3 linked regions of the Homo sapiens genome follow. The protein of the gene in region 1 interacts with the protein of each later gene in a pairwise test. Each region holds a gene or a part of one and is shown on either strand. Other genes may lie near its edges.

Region 1 (7,160 bases):
GAGGATGGCTTGATCGCAGGGTTTCAAGACCAGCCTGGGCAACATAGTGAGACCTTGTCTCTACAAAATAATCAAAAAATTAGCCGGGCATGGTGGCAACCCGTGTCTGTATTCCCAGCTACTTGGAAGGCGAAGAGGAGAGAATCACCTGAAGCCGGGAAGTCTTGGCAACAATGAGCCATGATCACGCCACTGCACTCCACCCTGGGCAACAGGTGTGTCTCAAAAAAATAAAAATAAAAATAAAATTGGCTGGGCACGGTTGCTTATGCCTGTAATCCCGCATTTCGGGAGGCTGATGCAGACGTTTGAGAGGCAGATGTCACTTGAGTTTGAGAGTTTTAGACCAACTGGCCAACATGGTGAAACCCTGTCTCTACTAAAAATACAAAAATTAGCCAGGCGTGGTGGCGCATGCCTGTAATCCCAGCTACTTGAGAGGCTGAGGCAGGAAAATCGCTTGAACCCAGAAGTTGGAGGTTGCAGTGAGCCGAGATCGTGCCTCTGCACACCAGCCTGGGAGACCAAGCGAGATTGCATCAAATAAAAAAAAAAAAGAAACACAAAAATTGTCACATGGTACCATTTCAGCGCACTAAGATGGCTAGAATTAAAAAGACACAGAGCATAACAAATGTATCTGGGGATGTGGAGAAACAGGAACCCCCGGGCACTGCTGCTGGGAATGTAAAATGACAGACAATTTGAAACATAGTCTGGCTGTTCCTCAGAAGGATAAAAACACATTTGCCATGTAACCCAGCTATTCTTCTCCTTCATACGTATCCAAGAGAAGTGAAAACATAAGTCTGCACAGAAACTTTTGCGTGAATGTTCACAGCAGCGTTATTCAGAATAGCAAAAAAGGGGAAAGAACCCCAACTTCCTTTGAGGGGTGAATGGAGAAACCAAATGTGGTCTATCCACACAGTAGAATATCATTCAGCCAGAAGAAGGAATGAAGGACTGATCCGTGTTACAACACAGATGAACCTCAAGAACAGCATGTTCCGTGAAAGAAGCTAGACACAGAAGATCACGTAGTGTATAATTCTACTTATAAGAAATCTCTGGGAGAGATGCATCCATTGAGAGAGAAAGTAGATAAGCCCAGACGCAGTGGCTCATGCCAGTAATCTCAGCATTTTGGGAGGCCAAGGCGGGCAGATCACTTGAGGTCAGGAGTTCGAGACTCCTTGGCCAACATGGTGAAATCCCATCTCTCCTAAAAATACAGAAATTAGGCCAGGCTGAGTGGCAGAACAAGACTCCACCTCAAAAAAAAAAAAAAAAAAAATTGTCACGTGATACCATTTCAGCCCATTGGGATGGCTGGAATTGAAAAGACACAGAGAATAACAAGTATTGCTGAGGTTGTAGAGACACGGGAACCCTCGCACACTGCTGCTGGGAATGTAAAATGACAGACATTTTGAAAAATAGTCTGGCTGTTCCTCAAAAGGATAAAAACACATTTACCATGTAACCCAGCTATTCTTCTGCTTCATACATATGAAGTGAAAACATACGTCTGCACAGAAACTTGTACGTGAATGTTCATAGCAGCATTATTCGGAATTAGCCAAAAAGTGGAAAGAACCCAAATGTCCTTCGAGGGGTGAATGGAGAAACCAAATGTGGTCTATCCACACAGTAGAATATTATTCAGCCAGAAAAAGGAATGAAGGAATAATGCGTGTTACAACACGGATGAACCTCAAGAATAGCATGTTCAGTGAAAGAAGCTAGACACAGAAGATCACCTAGTGTATAATTCTACTTATAGGAAATGTCTGGGAGAGAGGCATCCATTGAGAGAGAAAGTAGATGAGGCCAGACACAGTGGCTCATGCCTGTAATCCCAGCACTTTGGGAGGCCAAGGCGGGCAGATCACTTGAGGTCAGGAGTTCGAGACTCCTTCATCAACATGGTGAAACCCCGTCTCTACTAAAAATACAAAAATTAGCTGGGTGTGGTGGCACGTGCCTGTAATCCCAGCTACTCGGGAGGCTGAGTCAGGAGAATTGCTTGAACCCAGGAGGCAGAGGTTGCAGTGAGCCGAGATCGTGCCACTGCCCTTCAGCCTAGACAACAGAGCGAGACTCTAAGAAAAAAAAAGAAAAAGAAAAAGTAGATGAGTGGTTATCCAGGGAAATGAGGACTGGCAGTGATGTCTCAGAAGGGCAGAATTTCTCTTAGAGGTGATAAAAATGTTCTAAAATGGGTTGTGGTGATAGCTGCACAGTTCTGTGCTTTGAATTGTACAGCTCAATGAGTGAATTGCATTGCCTGTAAATTGCATCACCATAAAGCTATAAAAACAGGGTACATACAGTCTGGGTGGATCCCAAGATGTCTTCAGATGGTGGCCTTTGAGAGTCATGAGGGGCTAGGGTTGGAGCTGAAGCCTAAAGCATGACTTTTAGCTGGTGCAGGAGTGGCTTCCTTCTGTCTCCCACTACAATTCAGAGGATACTCAGGGAAAGATCTGGACATCCTGTATGTGGAAAGGCGGTTGCGCACAGTGGAATGGACTCCTAAGTGGCAGGCAGGTGACAACCGTTGTCTACTTCACCCAAGGGAAGATTTCTCCATGGAGCGTGTTTTATAGGTTCTGTCTCTCCGAGTCCCCTTTGAGAATATAATGGGATACATTGCATCCATGCTGAATTCCTAAGCCCCAGGACCTCAGAATATGCCCTTATTTGGAAACAGGGTCTTTATGGAGGTACTTAAGGTACAATGAGGTCACTGGGGTGGATCCTACTTCTTTTTTTTTTTTTTCCGAGGGGAATTTTCATTGTTGTCCCCCAGACTGGAGTGCAGTGGCACCATCTCAGCTCACTGCAACATTCGCCTCCCGGGTTCAAGTGATTCTCCTGCCTCAGCCTCCCGAGTAGCTGGGAATACAGGTGCCGGCCACCACGCAAGGCTAATTTTTGTATTTTTAGTAGAGACAAGGTTTCACCATGTTGGCCAGGCTGGTCTAGAACTCCTGACCTTAGGTGATCTGCCCGCCTCGGCCTCCCAAAGTGTTGGGATTACAGGCGTGACCCACTGCGCCCGGCCTAGGGTGGACCCTATTTCAATATGACTGGTGTCCTTTGGAAAGGGGAAAGGGGGACAGTCACACCCAGGCAGAACGTGATGAAGATGAAGATGGCCATCTACAAGGGCAGGAGAAACCTGAACAGAATCCCAGCTCCGGGCCCTCAGAAGGACCCCACGCTGCCCACATTGACCTTGGACCTCCAGCCTGCAGATCGTGAGGGAAGAGACGTCTTCGACTTAGGGCCCCTTGTCGTGGTACTTCCTTAGTTTGGCCCCAGGAAACCATCCCAAAGGCAAGGGCGTGGTTGTGCTCAGCTGGGGGAAGGGGGCTGGGGGCCGTGAGGAGGAGGTGGGAGGCCCAGCCAGGCTGGAGGGTCAGAACCCGTGGAGCTAGAAGAGCCCGTAGGGGAGCCCCAAGATTGCTGAGACCAGTGACCTTCGGCCCCAGATGGCCTTGCCTTGGCCCAGAAGGGTCAGAAGGACCTGGTCAGCCAAGCTCAGACAGCCGGCAGGATGCCTTCCACCCTGCAGAGGGTCCTATCTTGTCCCACAGGTAGATCTACATCACCACTAGCCACCCCTCCAACGTGCACAGGCCCCTGCCCTCACGGCGCCCCTCTTAGGTCCGGCAGTTCCTGCCTCCTTCTGATCCAGAAGTTTCTCTGGCCTCTGGAGCCGGGGCACACCTCATGCAAGGACAGGGTCCAAATTCCTTTGTCCTTGGATCCCACTTGGCTGACGTCACCTTCCTGTACTCAGGGAGTTTCCCCAGCCAGCTGTCCCGAGTCTGGACTTTCCCTCTGCCCCTCCCCACTCTCAGGCTGGTGGGGTGGGGAAAGCAGCCCATTCCTGGGCTCAGAGACTCCCACCCCAGCTCAGAGGGAGCAGGGGCCCAGCCAGGGACGGACCCTCATTCCTCCCAGGGACCCCAGACCTCTGTCTCTCTCGGGTAAGTCTCCATCTCTGTCTGTCTCTGTCTCTGTCTCTGTCTCTGTCTGTTTTTCACGCACTCAGCAAGGCCTCCTGCCCTGAGAGAGGCTCCGCCCACTACCCCCCACTTTCCCCATAAAACCAGCTGAGTATTTGTGCCAGGAAGACTGCGTGCAGAAGGTGACTGTCTCAGTGGAGCTGGGTCATCTCAGGTGGGGAGTTGGGGTCCCCGAAGGTGAGGACCCTCTGGGGAGGAGGGTGCTTCTCTGAGACACTTTCTTTTCCTCACACCTGTTCCTCGCCAGCAGGCCTTGGCTCCTTGAACTTTTGGCCGCCATGTGCTTCCCGAAGGTGAGTGAGAGGCTGCGTGTGCTTTTGTGGGCATGTCTGAAAACAGACCGTAAGGGTGCGGGTGCCCTCAGTATTTCCCGAGGTGCCTGTGTGTCAGGGCTCAGTCAGGGGCACCCAGCGGCAGGAGGATAGTGATGGGGTGAGAGTGTCAGTGGAGGCGCTGGAGGTCATATGTGTCGGGGGCGCTGGAGAACGGCAGGGGTGTGGATGAGAGGGAGCACCTGTCCCAGGAGCCCTTCACAGCCCGGAAAGCCCGGGGCAGGGGTGGGGCAGGGCTCTGCTGGAAACGACTCGGAGAATGCTTCTCTCAGAGGCCGGCTCAGCTGGGTGGGCCCAAGAGCAAGGCCTGTGTGGGTCCTGGTGTCTCTTCCTCCTTTCCTGGGTTCCCTCCGACCTCCCATCCTCTACCACTGCCCCACCGCAAATGCTAGGCCCACCACACCCTCCAGGGAGCTCTTCGGCCTGTGACAATAGGGGTTTCCATGATGTGGCCTGGCTCAGGTTCAGGACAGTGACCCGGAGGACACATGGCTCCCGCATGTCGGCACGGTGCTGCTTTCACCCTGGTTCCTGGGAAATCAGGCTAGCGGGATGGGACCATCGCTGCCTGAAAGTGTGCAGACAGCTGCCCTGCCCAGAATATGTCCCCAGGCCCTGCGCACTCTGTGGGTGACTGTCACCACTCTATAGTGGGGGAAACCAGGCATGTCACCCCCGAGACTAGGCCCTTGACGTGGGGGCTCAGCGGGGATTCTGTGGGGTGCCTCTGGCCTCTGTGGATGCAGCCACGTGTCTGCAGGCAGGAATGGCCCGGGACCTGTGGGTCTGCATGTTGGCAGTCGGGAAGAGTGGCAGGTTGTAGGGTGGACCTACCTGGCACCCCAAATATTAATCAGCTCATCAGAGAGGAATGGCTGCTGTTACCTTCTCAATTGTCATGTCCCTAAACATTTTTTCCTTGGCCAACTCTCACCTGGGACCATAGTGGTTGTGGGAAACCCAGCTGAGCCAGCCTGCTCCAGGACAGTGTCCATCCTCCCGTGTGTGTACATGGGGGGGTGTGTGTGTGCAGGGAGGACACCCCGGCCCACGCAGGCCCTGCTCTTGTGAGGAGGGGTCACCTAGGCCCACGCAGGCCCTGCTCTTGTGAGGAGGGGTCACCTAGGCCCACGCAGGCCCTGCTCTTGTGAGGAGGGGTCACCTAGGCCCACGCAGGCCCTGCTCTTGTGAGGAGGGGTCACCTAGGCCCACGCAGGCCCTGCTCTTGTGAGGAGGGGTCACCTAGGCCCATGCTGGCCCTGCTCTTGGGCCTGCCCAGCTGAGCCGGCTCCTGAGAGAAGCGCTTTCTGAGTCGTTTCGAGGACAGCCCTGGCCGGTCTTTCCAGGCTGTGAGGGGCTCCTGGGACTGCTGTCTCCTCTTATCCTGTACCTCTGCCATGTGTCTCTGTGTGTGTGTGTGTGTGTGTGTGTGTGTGTGTGTGTGTATAAATTATCCTGGAGGAAAGGTTAAGGTGACACATGGAGACTGAGTGTCACCGTTATTTCCGCAGGTCCTCTCTGATGACATGAAGAAGCTGAAGGCCCGAATGGTAATGCTCCTCCCTACTTCTGCTCAGGGGTTGGGGGCCTGGGTCTCAGCGTGTGACACTGAGGACACTGTGGGACACCTGGGACCCTGGAGGGACAAGGATCCGGCCCTTTGGTGCCAACTCTGCCTCTCTTCACAGCACCAGGCCATAGAAAGATTTTATGATAAAATGCAAAATGCAGAATCAGGACGTGGACAGGTGGGTGGATTTCCCCTCAGGCACCAGGTCACATGTCCCCGCCCCCAGGCACTCCACCCTGTGTGGGGCTCAGGGTGAGAAGGATGAAGAGGGACCCACAGGCTCCCTCACCCCTTACCGTGGGCAAATGCTTGCACCTGGGTGGCAGTGAGTGGGCGGGTGGGGGATCTGGACGCCCGGGGAGACTGAGGGAGGCATCCAAGCCCCAGGGCTCCTTGAGGAAACAACAGGGGTGCCAGACGTGGCCCGGGCCCCTGGCTGGGCCCAGTTCGGGGTGTGTGGGAGCTGAGGACTCACTGGGCTTGAGGACTGACTGATGTGGGGTGCAGAGGAGGCTTGGGCCTGGAACCGAGTGCTTTGTTCCTAACAGGTGATGTCGAGCCTGGCAGAGCTGGAGGTGAGCCGTGGCCTCCCCCTCCACCAAGCTTAGTCCCTGGGTCTTAGGCTCCACAGGACACTGGGTCTGGGCCCCGGGTCCCCTTGGGAATCACCTGGACCAGTGGGGGCCACAGTGGGAAGGGGGCAGGCAGGAGCAGCATGAACCCCCTGTGCCCTCCTCTCCCCAGGACGACTTCAAAGAGGGCTACCTGGAGACAGTGGCGGCTTATTATGAGGAGCAGCACCCAGTGAGTATGACACACCCATCTGGGCACCTTGCCTTCCTTCACCTCTGCCCTGTCTTTTCTTTCTTTCTTTCTTTTTGTTTATTTGAGACAGAGTCTCGCTCTGTCGCCCAGGCTGGAGTGCAGTGGCATGATCTTGGCTCACTGCAACCTCCAAATCTCGGGTTTAAGTGATTCTCCTGCCTCAGCCTGACAAGTAGTTGGGACTACAGGCACCCGCCACCACTCCAGGCTGATTTTTTTTGTGTGTGTTTTTAGTAGAGACCAGGTTTCACCATGTTTGCCAGGCTGGTCTTGAACTCCTAACCTTGTGTTCCGTCTGCCTTGGCCTCCCAAAGTGCTGAGATTACAGGCATGAGCCACCGGGCCCAGCCAACCCCTGCCCTGTCTTGATGTGGTGTGGGCAGGGTGTGCCCA
Region 2 (6,890 bases), on another chromosome or scaffold:
AGATGTTGGGTTCTTCTAACTCATGCTACCTTGTTCACGTCACTGGGATTGTCAAAAATAATTCAGCGTTTGAAATGGGGGTAGTTTTTGACCAGAAGGAAGGTATTGAGCAGGTGCATTCAAGTGTTGGTGGGAAGGGTATGAAAATGCATTATAATTTCTTAGTAAAAAGTTACAGAGGACTTGCTAATCATGACATCATTCCCCATCTTTCCCATCTCAAAAAGAAGCAACCCACTGAAAGCAAAGATCACACTACTAATTTTAATAATTCTTTGCTTCTGAGACCCTAGTAAAGGAAAAAATGGAATTATGGCAAGCTGAATAATTTTGCCAAATGTGAATTCTATATATGAAAAACATGGACCAAATCGACATAGAAAAAAATCCAACTTAATCTCATAGGAAAACAATAATATTCACCAATGGAATTGTAGGGACTTGACATTCAGAATTTCTTCACTTTTTCCTAAAGTGTTTCTTACTAAATGACATTAAAAACAGCTCAGGGCTGGGTAGGTCATTATCTTTTCCCAGAAGCAGTGCTTCTTGTTGTCTTCTACTTCTGAAGCACTTTGCTCTGTTAGGTGAATAATTCAGTTAATAAGATAAATCATCCTATGCTGATATTAAAAACTCTCTCAGCAACATATTGCTTTAACTGGACAATCTGTAACTTTGTAAAAGGACTCTCTTAGTAGCCTTGAAGCCTATTCTAAATTATTCTAATAGATAGGAGGGTTTCTATACTGGCCAATAAGTAAAGATATGATATTCCCAGGAATATCTGGTACCTAGGAAACTTCTGGTACCTCTCCACTCTTATTCTAGAGTGTGGTCCTCCCTGCCAGGCAATTTCATTTCCTCTAGGACAGTATAAATGAACAAGCCCCAGTGATTTGCCAGGGAATACATCACAGGTCAATAGCATCATTTAATTATTTTGAGTTCCAGCCTAATTGTGTTTCACATTGCCTGTTCTTTCCTACCACCAAAAGCTACGATGATGATAAACACACTCCATTAATATAAATTGCTTTTTCAGATAATGGAAACTATTTCTGGGACAGGCCTTCTAAAGTGGGAACAGTGGCTTTGTTCTCTAATGGAACTCAGTTTAGAAGAGGTGGGGGCTATGGAACCAGTGCCTTTATAACCCACGAAAGGCTGAAAAGCAGAGATTTTATAAAAGGAGATGATGTTTATATCCTACTGACAGTGGAAGGTATGTCAATAAAAATAGTTTTATATAAACTAGTTTTTTTTTGTTGTGGCCACTGATTATTTTCTGTTTTTCTTTCTGCATTCCACTTTTAGATGTATTATATAGAGATGTGGGGGGAATGGGCATGAATGGGGTTTGGGAGGAATATGAATTATTAACAATATGAAAATAATTTAATTTGAAACAGTGAGGATTCCAGAATAAAGAATTTAATGACCACCACATGAAGCTATAGCGGAAACCTTTAGGTTGGGAAATTTCTTTAGAAATAAGTTAAAATAGGCCGGGCGCAGTGGCTCATGCCTGTAATCCCAGCGCTTTGGGAGACCGAGGCGAGTGGATCACGAGGTCAGGAGATCGAGACCATCCTGGCTAACACGGTGAAACCCTGTCTCTACTAAAAACATAAAAAATTAGCTGGGCGTGGTGGCGGGCGCCTGTAGTCCCAGCTACTCGGGAGGCTGAGGCAGGAGAATGGTGTGAACCCGGGAGGCGGAGCTTGCAGTGAGCCAAGTTCGTGCCACTGCACTCCAGCCTGGGCCAAAGAGCGAGACTCCGTCTCAAAAAAAGAAAAGAAATAAGTTAAAATAGAACTATTATACCCTAGGATTCCTGAAATAAAAATATCACACAAGCACATGAAATTAAATGACTGGAAACGTCTGCATCTTACCTGTTTCAAATGTACATACATGCATACATATATGCATATATATATATATATATATATATATATATATATATATATATATATATATCTTGACAGAAATGACATTAATCTCTTGTTAGACTAATGTTAAATTTCTTACACCTGGCAGCCAATAAATACATTTTGCAGCAATTCTGGTGGTTTCTATTTTTTATGTGGTAGGATTTTAACTCATTTTCTATTAAAGACCCACTTGGATCTCAGTAAATCAGATTCTTGTTTGTGATGAAAGGTGGTGCAATTAAAACCCACAAAATTTTGACTCCAGTGTCCATTAGAGTAAATCTAGATGATACCTCTTGGAGAGATTATTCAGAAATAACTTCTGTTAAGAGAGAAAATATTTTATGTAGCAGAGAACAAAAATCAGTATGCATCAGTTCTCTTTGACCATAGCGATTTCAACCAGAAGCAATAACAAATACTGCAAAGAATGTAACACTGGTTGTCAGGGCACTTGGTGTCTTGCTCCAAATCTCCACCAATTTGCTCTACCAAGCCAGAGACCTGTGACCTTGGGCAATGCCCTCAATTACTTTACATTTCTGAGTTTTGGTTTCCTTATCTGTCTCTTGAAAGTTGGTATCAGTGGCTTGTACCCTTCTGGGCTCCCAGAATCCAGGCCAGCATGTGGTTGAGTTGGAGCCCCAGTAGGCTGGCCTAGTTTCCCTTTGCCTAGTTCTTATCTCGCTGCCTATGAATGTTGCTAGACTGTGCTTCAAGGATACCTGAATTTCTCACAAGCCTAAAATCTGATCATTGTCTATTCTGAAACTTAAGATTGGGCTTGGCATCATGGCTCACGCCTATAATCCCAGGACTCTGAGGCCGGAGTGGAAAGGCTGTCTGAGCCTGGGAGCAAAGACCAGCCTGGGCAACATTGCAAGATCTCACCTCTAAAAAAAAAAAAGAAAGAAAGAAAAAAGGAAAAAAGAAACATTAAAAGAAAATGAAAATTAAAGATCAAATGATTGTTAAACAAAAGCTGATTTCCATCCACACTCTTCCCCATCTTCCTAGACATATCTCACCTCAACTCTACACAAATCCAGCTAACACCAGCCCCTAGTGTTCAAGACCTCTGCTCAAAAACCACCTGTAAAAATGACGGTGTCTGCACTGTTCGAGATGGCAAAGCTGAGTGCAGGTAAGGATGATTTGAAAGAGATCTCTCCATTCTTTGGTTAGAAATTTTATTTCCATAATGTAGGATTAATTACTTAATAGTTCTTATGAATGAAATCAGTTGATTCTCATCTCACAGCCATTCATAGAATTTTTTTTTTATTCTCCTTTTGGGGCTTTGGATAACCTCAAGAACTATCTTTGTGATAGCCAACACAATTTTTTTATGAAAAAAATAGAACTCTATATTCTAATTGTCTGAAAAAGTCCTCATAACAGTCCAGTCATTTTAAGTGTAGCTGCCTCCATTTTCTAGATGAAGATACTGACGTTCTGAGGAGCCCTTGGCCAAGATGTGAATCTGGAGGGTGGCGGGCATGGGACACTGAGAACTAAACTTTCTCTGTTATCTGTGCTATCGGCCTTTCCTAACTTGGAGATACTGTTTTAGTATCAGATTAGGAGGAATTCCATTTTTTCTTTCCATTGTTTATACCTGTGCTCTAGGTGCTAGTCTCTCTCCAGTCCAGAGTGGGTAAAATAGTTTCATATAGCAATGACCTATTGGTGATCAAATAGACTAAAGGTGATCCACATCTTTAACTGTGAAGATTTCTGGAGTTAGATATCAACTAATAACTCTGAGTCATGCTCTCAACATGCAGGTGCCAGTCAGGGGAAGACTGGTGGTACATGGGAGAAAGGTGTGAAAAGAGAGGCTCCACCCGAGACACCATAGTCATTGCTGTTTCATCTACTGTTGCTGTGTTTGCCTTGATGCTGATCATCACCCTTGTCAGTGTCTATTGCACCAGGAAGAAATATCGTGAAAGGATGAGCTCAAATCGACCAAATTTGACTCCGCAAAATGTAAGTTGAGGCTGATGTTTGATTATTCATAACCTATTGGTGAAATCTTATGGAGAGGAACTAGGACATTTTTTATATACTTTGGTTCTTGCCTTCTTCTCTCTGTTTCCTATGCTGGGACAACTGATTTCAGATTATAAAAGTTCCTATTACTTTCACTGTAAATCAACGATTCTTAAACTGGGATTTATGGAGGTTCATTATCCTCCTGGAATTGTATACAACATTGTGTACAGTTGTGTGTGTGGGTTTTTTTCCTGGAGTGTGGGGTGGTCTGTGACCTGAAAGGCACAACTGATTTTGCCTGAAAGTTCAAACCTTCCTGGTAAAGGGAAGAGGTGGCCTGCAAGTGTTTTTGTTCTAAAGGTCTTGTAGTGGTGGTGAGCTGAGGCCATAGGAAGGGGATGCAGGCATGTTTGGGGAAGCTTTTTCATTAAAGAAGGTTCCAGTTCATTCTGGCTTCATGTGGAATAACTAATTCTAAGGCAAGTTTTCAAGTAAAGGATTTAAAGTCTTGCCTCAAAAAATCTCTAGAATGCTAATAGACTCCTGAAACGATCCTGTTTCCAGTGGGTCCCTTGGGAAGCTGACTCTGAGATGGATATTTGTACGCAGGAGGTTTATTGGGGAGGGCTCCTGGAACACGTATAATAGGCTGAGGGAGCTGGCCTGGGCAGAGGGTGAGGTTGGAATGTGATGTGGTTGCAGCTGAGGCCTCAGCCCATCCTTCAGGGAGCTCTGGAGTGGGGATGACTCCCTCTTAGGCACGTCCTGAATCGAGGGAGGGGGCCAGGCCTTTGTACTCCCATCACTGGAAGGGGGCTGCCCTCAAAGAGGGGGCATAAAATTGGGCAAGGCAACGGCCTTTGGGGGAGGGCATTTCTTGCATAACAGCCTTCATTCAAAGGGCAGGACAAAGCAGCAGTTCCCTAGCATCCACTACATACTCCAGCAGTAGAGTACAGAGTTTTACATGCAGATTCATATTCCTCTCAAAGAAGCACAGAGAAAGTGGCATAAAATCTGAGCATTACTTAAAAGTGAAGCCCTAAAATTCTTCCATTTCTATTTCATTCCAATTGGAGTCTCTGAAAATTGCTACTGAAGCCAGTCAGAAAAAATGCCCAATTAGAATATCTCCAAAAATAAAAATACTGCAATTGGCTAAAGCAAGAGTACATTTTCTTAAGAAAAACGATTATTCAAGACATACTATATTTAAAGCTACGAGTTTTTAAAGGGGACAGCCTGGTATCAAGTCAGTCAAAACATGAACAATGATAATGAACTGAAAGCAAATCGTTGTATTATCGTAGGCTGTTGTCCTATTTCCTCAACATCAGGAAGATGTTTAATGCTAATAATAAGGCAATAGATCAATTACTTCACAAAATTATTAGAAAAGTATTTAAAATATAAACAGGTTGTTTTGTTTTAAGACAACTTTCAGCTTATTTTATGACTCAAAATAAAAGGGGAAGATCAGTGAATACTTGGCCTGGTAGGTCAACCTGATGGCAGCTGTGCCTGCAAGTTCGGTCTCCTGGGCCATTGGGATGAGCCAGGAGTTGGTGCATGGAAGGTGGAAGAGTAGAAGGGCAGGAGGGGACAAGTTAACTGGGTGGATGGGATTGCCAGGATATTTCCCTGACAATGAATGGGTAGTGTAACAGCTGTTATAAGCAAGTATAAACTTGCTTAGCAAGTAAAAACTGGAAGGAGTTAAAGAAAAATGACAAAACCAAAGAGAAGAGAAAGAAGGAAGCTAGGAAGCTAAGTCAATAAAGCAGGGAAACCATGACAGTATTAGAGACATGGTAAGGATAGTAAGTGGAAACACACATGCACACACACACACACACACACTCCATAATATTACAACAGAGCTGTTTTGTTTCTGGGTCATTTAAACACATTCCTAAGGACAAGGCAGTTGACTTACATTATCTTAGGCTAGGCATTTCTACAGCTAATTCACTGGTAACAGATCTCCCAGATGTCGTTTAGATCTTAAATCAGAATGACCTTTTTTTCTGAGGCGAATGTATGTGTTCACCCTAATGTTTTAGCATCTGAATAATGTGGGCCCGAAAAGCCAGGGCTCGAAATGGAGACCAGGAGCAGGAGCCATTGCCAGCTAGGAGGGAGGCCAGGAGACTGCTGATGGGGACTTCATTTAAAGACCAGATCATTTTATTATGATTCATTTAAATAGCAGTTTTTAAATTTAGAAATTAAATCATCAATTGTTCTTTCCCCTTTTAGCAGCATGCTTTTTGAAGATTAACTCGACAATATGGCCAGCTAATGAAATTAAAAAGGATTCTTCATCATGGATTTCGCCTAAGTGATATTACAGCCACCTCATTCTTCTAAAAGTGGATATTTTTCTGTAAATAGCTGGAAATATTATAAATCACTATTTTGGTCAAAGTCAAATTGGTGAAATGCTGTTTGTGTTTCCTTCTTTTAAATGAGAGAAAAGCAATTCAGGCTCTTCTGGAAGTATAATATTGTCTAGAAAAAAGGGAGAGCAACAGTTAGAGATGGCTTTTCAAATTACTGATCCTTCCATATGGGGGCCAAGTGTGGTGTCCTCACAAGTGATTCCTTAGAAACCCACTAGAAACACCCAATGGGAATGATCATCCATGCAGAATCACAGCAGTTTCAGTGCCATCCTTTCCCAGCATTGGGAAGGGTAATGAGACAGCTCCCCACTCTCTGTCAATATACATTCTTCTCCAAAACTGGCTACTCTTGTTTTCTTATATAATCCCTTTGGTACATGAGCTTGGTTTAGAATTTGTTTGAGCATACGACTGTAATCAGCAAGAAAACCTTTCACTCTTTGAGTGGCAAGTCTCCAAGTTTTGGATCTCAGGAATCTTTACACTTTAAAAATTACTGAGGATCTCAAATAGGTTACTGAGGATCTCAAATAGATTACGGAGGATCTAT
Region 3 (7,333 bases), on another chromosome or scaffold:
GCTGCAAGAGATGTACAAGGGATCCTCAATAAATCCATACATCTGTGGCCAGTGAATTTTTGACAAGAGTGCCAAGTCCATTCAATGATGAAATAATAGTTTCTTTAATATATGCTGTGAGAGAAATGGATTTCCACATGCAAGACTAAAGTTGGGCTCCACTTCACACCATATGTGAAAAATAATTCACAACCTAAATATAAGAACTAAAGCCATATAGAGGAAAACGTAAGAGTAAATCTTCATGATCTTGTGTTTTGGGTTCTTAGATAAGACACTAAAAGCCCAGGAAGAAACAACAAAAAATAGGTAAATTGGAGTTCATAAAAAATGTGAAACTTTTATATCAAAGGACATTTTCAAGAAAGTGAAAGACAACCTACAGAATGGGAGAAAATATTTGTAAATCCTATGTCTGATAACATCCAGAATATGTAAAGAACACCTACAACTCGGCCGGGTGCGGTGGCTCACGCCTGTAATCCCAGCACTTTGGGAGGCCGACGTGGGCGGATCACCTAAGGTCGGGAGTTTGAGACCAGGCTGACCAACATGGAGAAACCCTGTCTCTACTAAAAATATAAAATTAGCCAGGCGTGGTGGCGTATTCCCGTAATCCCAGCTACTCGGGAGGCTGAGGCATAAGAATCACTTGAACCCAGGAGGCGGAGGTTGCGGTGAGCCGAGATCTCGCCATTGCACTCCAGCCTGGGCAACAAGAGCAAAACTCCGTCTCAAAAAACAAACAAAAAACCTACAACTCAACAACAAATAGACAAACAACCCAATTAAATGGTCAACAAAGGACTTGAATAGACATTTCTCCAAGGAAGGTATACAAATGGCCAGTAAGCACATGAAAAGATGCTCAAAGTCATTAGTCCTTAGGGAAATGCAAATCAAAACCACAATGAGATACCACTTCGCACTTGCTAGGATGGCTATAATTTAGAGGGAAAAAAAAGAAACATAACAAATGTGCGTGAGAATGTAGAGAAGTTGGAACCTGTGTACATTGTTGGTGAAAATGTGAAATGGTGTAGACGCTGTGGAAAACAGTTTGGCTGTTCCTCAGAAAGCTAAACATAGAATGACCATAGAATTGTAATACCGACAATTCCACTCCAAGGTGTATAACCAAAATTATTGAACACAGGGACTGAAACAGATACTTGTACACCAATAATCATTGCAATATTATTCACAATAGTCAAACAACAGATGAGTGGATAAACAATGCCTGGTACCCTTCCTTCCTTCCTTCCTTCCTTCCTTCCTTCCTTCCTTCCTTCCTTCCTTCCTTCCTTCCTTTCTTTTTCTTTCTCTCTTTCTTCTTTCTTTTCTTTCTGTCAGTCTTGCTCTTGTTGCCCAGGCTTGAGTGCAATGACACAATCTCAGCTCACCGCCACCTCTGCCTCCTGGGTTCAAGTGATTCTCCTGCCTCAGCCTCCCGAGTAGCTGGGACTACAGGTGCACACCACCATGCCCAGCTAATTTTTGTGTTTTTAGTAGAGATGGGGTTTCCCCACGTTGGCCAGGCGGTATACACATTTTTCTATTATTCGGCCATAAAAAGGAATGAAGTTCTGATGCATACTACAACATGGATGAAACTCAGCAACAAGGTTTTTGAGGAAAAAAAGCTTAGTGAAAAGGCCACATCTTGTAGGATTCCACTTATATGAAATACATGCAATAGACAAATTCATGGAGACAGAAAGTAGATTAGAGGCTACCAGGAGTGGAAGGAGGGGAGAATGGGGATTTATTATCCAATGAGTGCAGTGTTTCTATTTGTTTTTGTTTTTGTTTGAGACAGGGTCTCGCTCTGTCATCCAGGCTGGAGTGCAGTGCCACGATCTCAGCTCACTGCAGCCTCCGCCTCCTGGGTTCAAGCAATTCTCCTGCCTCAGCCTCTGAGTAGCTGGGATTACAGGTGTACACCACCTGGCAAATTTTTGTAGAGATGGGGTTTCGCCATGTTGGCCAGGCTGGTCTCAAACTTTTGACCTCAGGTGATCTGCATGCCTCTGCCTCCCAAAGTGCTGGGATTACAGGCGTGATCTATGGCCCCTGACCCAAGTGTTTCTATTTGGGATGATGAAAACGTTTTGAAAATAAATAGTTGTAATGGTTGCACAGCACTCTAAAGGTAATTTATGCCACTGAATTGTACACTTAAAATGGTGAAAATAGAAAATTTCATGTTATACAGATTTTGCTACCCAAAAAACAAAACAAAAAATCCAAAACCTTTATGTTATTATGAAGAAGCAGTTTTCCAAAGGAATAGGGATGCTGGTAGCAGAAGGGAAAGAAATCTCATTAAATAAAAACAAAAGCAATGACCTCTTCAGGAGGTGGCTCAGCTAGTTTAGCTTTACCTTAGCACCATGATGGTTCATTTTATTCAGAAATAGAAACATGGGGCGTTGGGGAGAAGAGGAGATGTGTACCTGCCTCACCTGCCTCCCTGCCCAGAATGCCGACTCCGACTCTTGCTTTCCACTAAGGCTGGGGATTAAATGAAAAGTGAGAATCTGGAAACCCCCAGAGATGATGTTTGTCGTTGGAGCTGATTTTATCTCATTTTAGTAGCATGACCTCCTCCTCAAACTCAGGATGCAATTATGGTCAATCTCATTAGTGTGCAGTAATTGCTCAGCCCCAATACCAGATTAGCAGGAAGTTCTGTTATTTTCCTTTTGAGGATGGGCTCCTACTGAACTGTCCTGGAATCTACCACCATTCAGGTTACAAAAGACCCAGGGAACTAGGCCAGTCCAGCTCCCAACCCCAAGCAGGGAGCAACTTGCTCAGTCCACGTTGTGATAGCTCCTCGCTGCCACAAGGTGGTGATGTTGCATCACACACGCGCATGATGGGCGCGCAGGCGCCAATGCTCCCAGGACCTGCTGTTCCATTCCTAAATGAAAGTTGTTCCCAGGATCTGGACTCACAAGACAAGGCAGCCTATTCCCTGCTGGGGAGCTCAGGGGCAAGAGGGCATCTCGGAGGGAGGGCACATTCTCACCTCTGAAGACAAGGAGAACATCATCAGCACATAGACCAATCCCAGCAGTGCACCTTAGGATGGGGAGGGCCACTGTGAGTTACAGCAAAATGAACGAATGAATGAACCAATAAATGTCTGAGAGGGAAAGTCCCAACGACCCTCAGGAGGTACAATCAAGAGTTGCAGTTATTTTCGTTAGGAACGTTCTAAACACAGGGGAAACCTTCCTTCCTTCTGCTCTATTGTTGGAGTGGGGCCATCCCGGGACACCAGAAATCAAGGAATTGAGTTTGGAGAAGGGACTTGGGGAGGTCACAGTGGCAGGTGACTGCCAAATGAGGTGGCAGAAGCCAGCAAGCGCTGGAAAAAGTCGGCCCAAACTGTTCACCAGCACCGCCCCCCATAACTCCCCACCGGCTCTGGTTTCAAGACTTTCCGTTTTCTAGGTATTTCCTTGGCCTTAAACCATTTTCCTTTAAACGAACTTTTTCTGTGAAGCCATCCGGTTTCCCCCGATAGTGGCATCTCACAAAGGACAATCCAGTATCCCAACAGCGTGTTGCGTTCCGCGGGACGCAGATTTCCTTCACAGGCACCCCCCGGGTTGCGTTTTTATAGCCACACCCACCCGCCCCCCTATCTCCTGGGCACTGCTAATGAGTCCTGCATTTCTCTCCTTTGGTCTTTGGATAAATGAACCATCCGTGCGTGACCTTTGCGAGGGCATCTTGCATAATACCAGTACACCAGCGGCGCCGTCGGTGAGTGACCTTTGGGACTGGTTTCTCTCACCAGCGTAACTCCCCGGGAGATCCGAGCAAGCTGATGAGTGTATCAGTGGCTCATTCTTTCTGTTGCACCACGGACCCTCATTCTGTAACCGGGATACCAGCCAGAGATGGGGAGCGGGAGGCGCAGGGCAGGGGCGTCCCTCCTCTCAGCACAGCCTCCCCGCGCTGGATTTCTATCAATCCAGTTTCCACCTGCCTGGAAGTCAGCAGGGTCCTCCCCAGTCCCAGATCGCCGGGCGAGGCCCCAGATGGACCTCAGGGGCGGGGAGTGGGCGGAGCTTAGGGGCCGAGGCGAGGTGTGGGTGGGGCGGGACGCCGCTGTGGAGGCGGGGCCTGGGCGCGGACGGGCGCGGAGCGAGGCACCGCACCGCCGGGGCGGGGAGTGGGCGGGGCTCGGGGGCGGGGCGGGGTGTGGGCGGGGCTCACGGGCGGGGCGGGTGAGTGGGCGGGGCCTCGGCGTGGTAGGCGCGCTGCGTAAAGAGGCCTGCAGTCCCGCGGCGCGGGGCAGGTTCCGGGCTGCTTAGGTTGGCACCGGTCCGTGGTCCCCGGGGGCGCAGTCGCAGCGCTCCCGCCCTCCAGGCGTCAGCGAGTGCGCGGTCCAGTGCGGCCGGAACCTGGCGCAACTCCTAGAGCGGTCCTTGGGGAGACGCGGGTCCCAGTCCTGCGGCTCCTACTGGGGAGTGCGCTGGTCGGAAGGTGAGTGATCCCCTGTCGGGGACCGGGGGACTTGGGAAGGACAGTTCCCGGACTGGACGGCCAGAACGCTCTCAGGGATTTCAGCTGGCCGGCCATATGGCCCTGTGGGTCGTCGCGCCCGGGCCAGGGACCATTCTGTACATAGGATCGTGCTTGGCTCTCACGGAACGCGCCCACACGCAGGGTCCCGGTGTCGAATCGTCTGGTGGAATCTGCCCTCAACCCTATGGAGCGGGTGCTGGTATCATAGTCATATTACAAGTAGGAATCAGCGGGCCCAAGGTCAGTCTGTAAAGGGGGTACCGGGGTTTAGGCCCGTGCGCTGCCCAGCGCTGCCCTGAAGGCGCGGCTGAACCACTGGTTTGCGCTGCCTTTGTCAAGGACATTGTGGCACTGTGGAAAAAATGAAAAATCAGCTTCTCTAACCTATAATCTCTCTGGGAAAAAAAAAAATCAGCTTTTTTTTTTTTCCCCGAGACGGAGTCTCACTCTGTCGCCCAGGCTGGAGTGCAGTGGCACGATTTCGGCTCACTGCAACCTCCGCCTCCCGGGTTCAAGCAATTCTCCTGCCTCAGCCTCCCGAGTACCTGGGATTATAGGGGCGTGCCACCACGCCTGGCTAATTTTTTGTATGTTTAGTAGAGACGGGTTTCATGTTGGTCAGGCTGGTCTCAAACTCCTGACCTCGTGATCCGCCCGCCTGGGCCTCCCAAAGTGCTGGGATTGCAGGCGTGAGCCACTGCTCCCGGCCCTCTTTTTCTTTTTTCTTTTTTTTTTAGAAGAGTCTCACTCTGTTGCCCAGGCTGGAGTGCAGTGGGGCAATCTCAGCTCACTGCAACCTCTGCCTTCCAGGTTCAAGCGATTCTCCCCCCTCAGCCCCTTGAGTAGCTGGGATTACAGGCGCCTGCCACCATGCCCGGCTAATTTTTGTATTTTTAGTACAGGTGGGAGTTTCACCATATTGGCCAGGCTGGTCTTGAACTCATTCTTCTTCCTTTCTTTTTCTTTTTTTTTTTTTTTTGAGATGGAGTTTCACTCTTATTGCCCAAGCTGGAGTGCAATGGCACAATCTCAGCTCACTGCAACCTCTGCCTCCCGGGTTCAAGCTATTCTCCTGCCTCAGTCTCCCGAGTAGCTGGGATTACAGGTGCGTGCCACTACACCCAGCTAATTTTTGGTATTTTTAGTAGAAATGGAGTTTCACCATATTAGTCAGGCTGGTCTCAAACTCCTGACCTCAGGTGATCCGCCTGCCTCGGCCTCCCAGAGTGCTGGGATTAATGAACCACTGCGCCCGGCCAAAAATCAGCTTCTTTAACCTTTAATCTCTGAAAAAATAAATCAGTTTAACCTTTAATCTCCGAAGATCACAGCCAAAGAAATACATGAAAAGGAACAAGTATTAAATAATATATACTTCTAGCTGTGCTGTTTATAGTTTTGGGAAAAAAATGGAAATAACCTAAGGTCCCAGAAATAGGAAAATGGGCACAAAAGGGTATGCAGGCAATGGTTTAGCTGCCGCATGAATACACACTGAATACACTGTGAGATGTTGTCTGTTAGAATGCCCAGCACGGGGACTGTCCACATGGAAAGAGGCACAGGAAAAAAAGTGAAAACATTATAAAATAACTTCTTAAAATTAAATAATGTACACGTCAAAAATATCAGAGCCCACTTGACCTGGTATATACAGTTTAATAACCACATGGCTCTTTTTTCCTGTAGGCCTGGGTAGGTGCATAGTTTCTAAAAAGGGAGAGAACTGTCACTGCTGTGGATGGGGTGCCAAGGGAAGTGCCTGGGGTCAAGTGAACAGTGACACAACTGCAAGTCAAGAGCCTGTGTTGGAGTCTTTCCCCACTATTTCAAATAGTATAGAAAATAGAGCTGAGTCACTCAAATAGAGCTGAGTTAGTCACTCAGCTCTTGGACCTCAGATTCTTATTCTTAACCGCTAGGGGGATGGAGACAGAAGTCACAAACTCACATGCCACCAGCCATATGATGTAAACATGTAAACTGGGCCAAGGAATACAAAAGGGAGTGGTGAGCTGGGGACACTGAAGAATGGATGCCCTGTCTAGAGGAGTGAAAATGAAGCATTTCATACAAACAACATGATTTCGGGCAATCACTTTGGGAATCAGGATAAGGTGTTCCCCCAGTCTGCAGAAACACTGGCAACATTTACAAAGGTAAATCATTTCATATCACTCTATTTTCTTTTTCTTTTTTGAGACAGAGTCTTGCTCTGTTGCCCAGGCTGGAGTGCAATGGCACAATCTTGACTCACTGCAACCTCCACCTCCCAGGTTCAAGTGATTCTCCTGCCTCAGCCTCCCAAGTAGCTGGGACTACAGGCACATGCCACCATACCCGGATAATTTTTGTATTTTTTAGTAGAGATGGTGTTTTGCCACATTGACCAGGCTGGTTTCAAACTCCTGACCTCAGGTGATCCCCCCACCTCGGCCCCCCAAAATGCTGGGATTACAGGTGTGAGCCACCACAACTGGCGATCATTCCATATTACTCTCCAGCTTAAGAGGCTCCAAGGGCTTTCTGTCAGGCTTAGAATAAAATCCTCACCCCTACCCTAGGAGGGGTCAGGTCAGACCCCTCCCACCTCCCTGACTGCATCTACCACCATCCACTCTTTTTTTTTTTGAACCACAGTTCAGCCAAACAGGCTTTCTTTTTTTTCTTTTACTTTCTCTTTTTTCTTGAAACAGAGCCTAACTCTGTCACCCAGTCTGGAGTGGAGCAATCCTCTAATCTCAGCCCCCTGAGTAGCTGGGATTACAGGCATGCACCACCACACCTG

Evidence for each region.
Region 2: the proteins of IL32 (region 1) and MEP1B interact in a protein complementation assay, tested with the Homo sapiens proteins (one study listed by IntAct).
Region 3: the proteins of IL32 (region 1) and NQO2 interact in a two-hybrid assay, tested with the Homo sapiens proteins (one study listed by BioGRID).

What each region holds. Positions count from the first base shown.
Region 1 is NC_000016.10:3,061,494-3,068,653, forward strand, and holds the start of IL32 (interleukin-32), read left to right. Parts: upstream 1-4,146; 5' UTR 4,147-4,194; exon of another isoform or gene 4,195-4,290; 5' UTR 4,291-4,318; coding exon 4,319-4,333; intron 4,334-5,883; coding exon 5,884-5,922; coding exon of another isoform or gene 5,923-6,060; coding exon 6,061-6,120; intron 6,121-6,490; coding exon 6,491-6,517; intron 6,518-6,686; coding exon 6,687-6,746; intron 6,747-7,160.
Region 2 is NC_000018.10:32,214,037-32,220,926, forward strand, and holds the end of MEP1B (meprin A subunit beta isoform 1 precursor), read left to right. Parts: intron 1-1,045; coding exon 1,046-1,225; intron 1,226-2,954; coding exon 2,955-3,081; intron 3,082-3,724; coding exon 3,725-3,929; intron 3,930-6,194; coding exon 6,195-6,209; 3' UTR 6,210-6,368; downstream 6,369-6,890. UniProt on the Homo sapiens protein: Membrane metallopeptidase that sheds many membrane-bound proteins. Exhibits a strong preference for acidic amino acids at the P1' position. Known substrates include: FGF19, VGFA, IL1B, IL18, procollagen I and III, E-cadherin, KLK7, gastrin, ADAM10, tenascin-C.
Region 3 is NC_000006.12:2,995,583-3,002,915, forward strand, and holds the start of NQO2 (ribosyldihydronicotinamide dehydrogenase [quinone]), read left to right. Parts: upstream 1-4,311; 5' UTR 4,312-4,503; exon of another isoform or gene 4,504-4,785; intron 4,786-6,467; exon of another isoform or gene 6,468-6,704; intron 6,705-7,333. UniProt on the Homo sapiens protein: The enzyme apparently serves as a quinone reductase in connection with conjugation reactions of hydroquinones involved in detoxification pathways as well as in biosynthetic processes such as the vitamin K-dependent gamma-carboxylation of glutamate residues in prothrombin synthesis.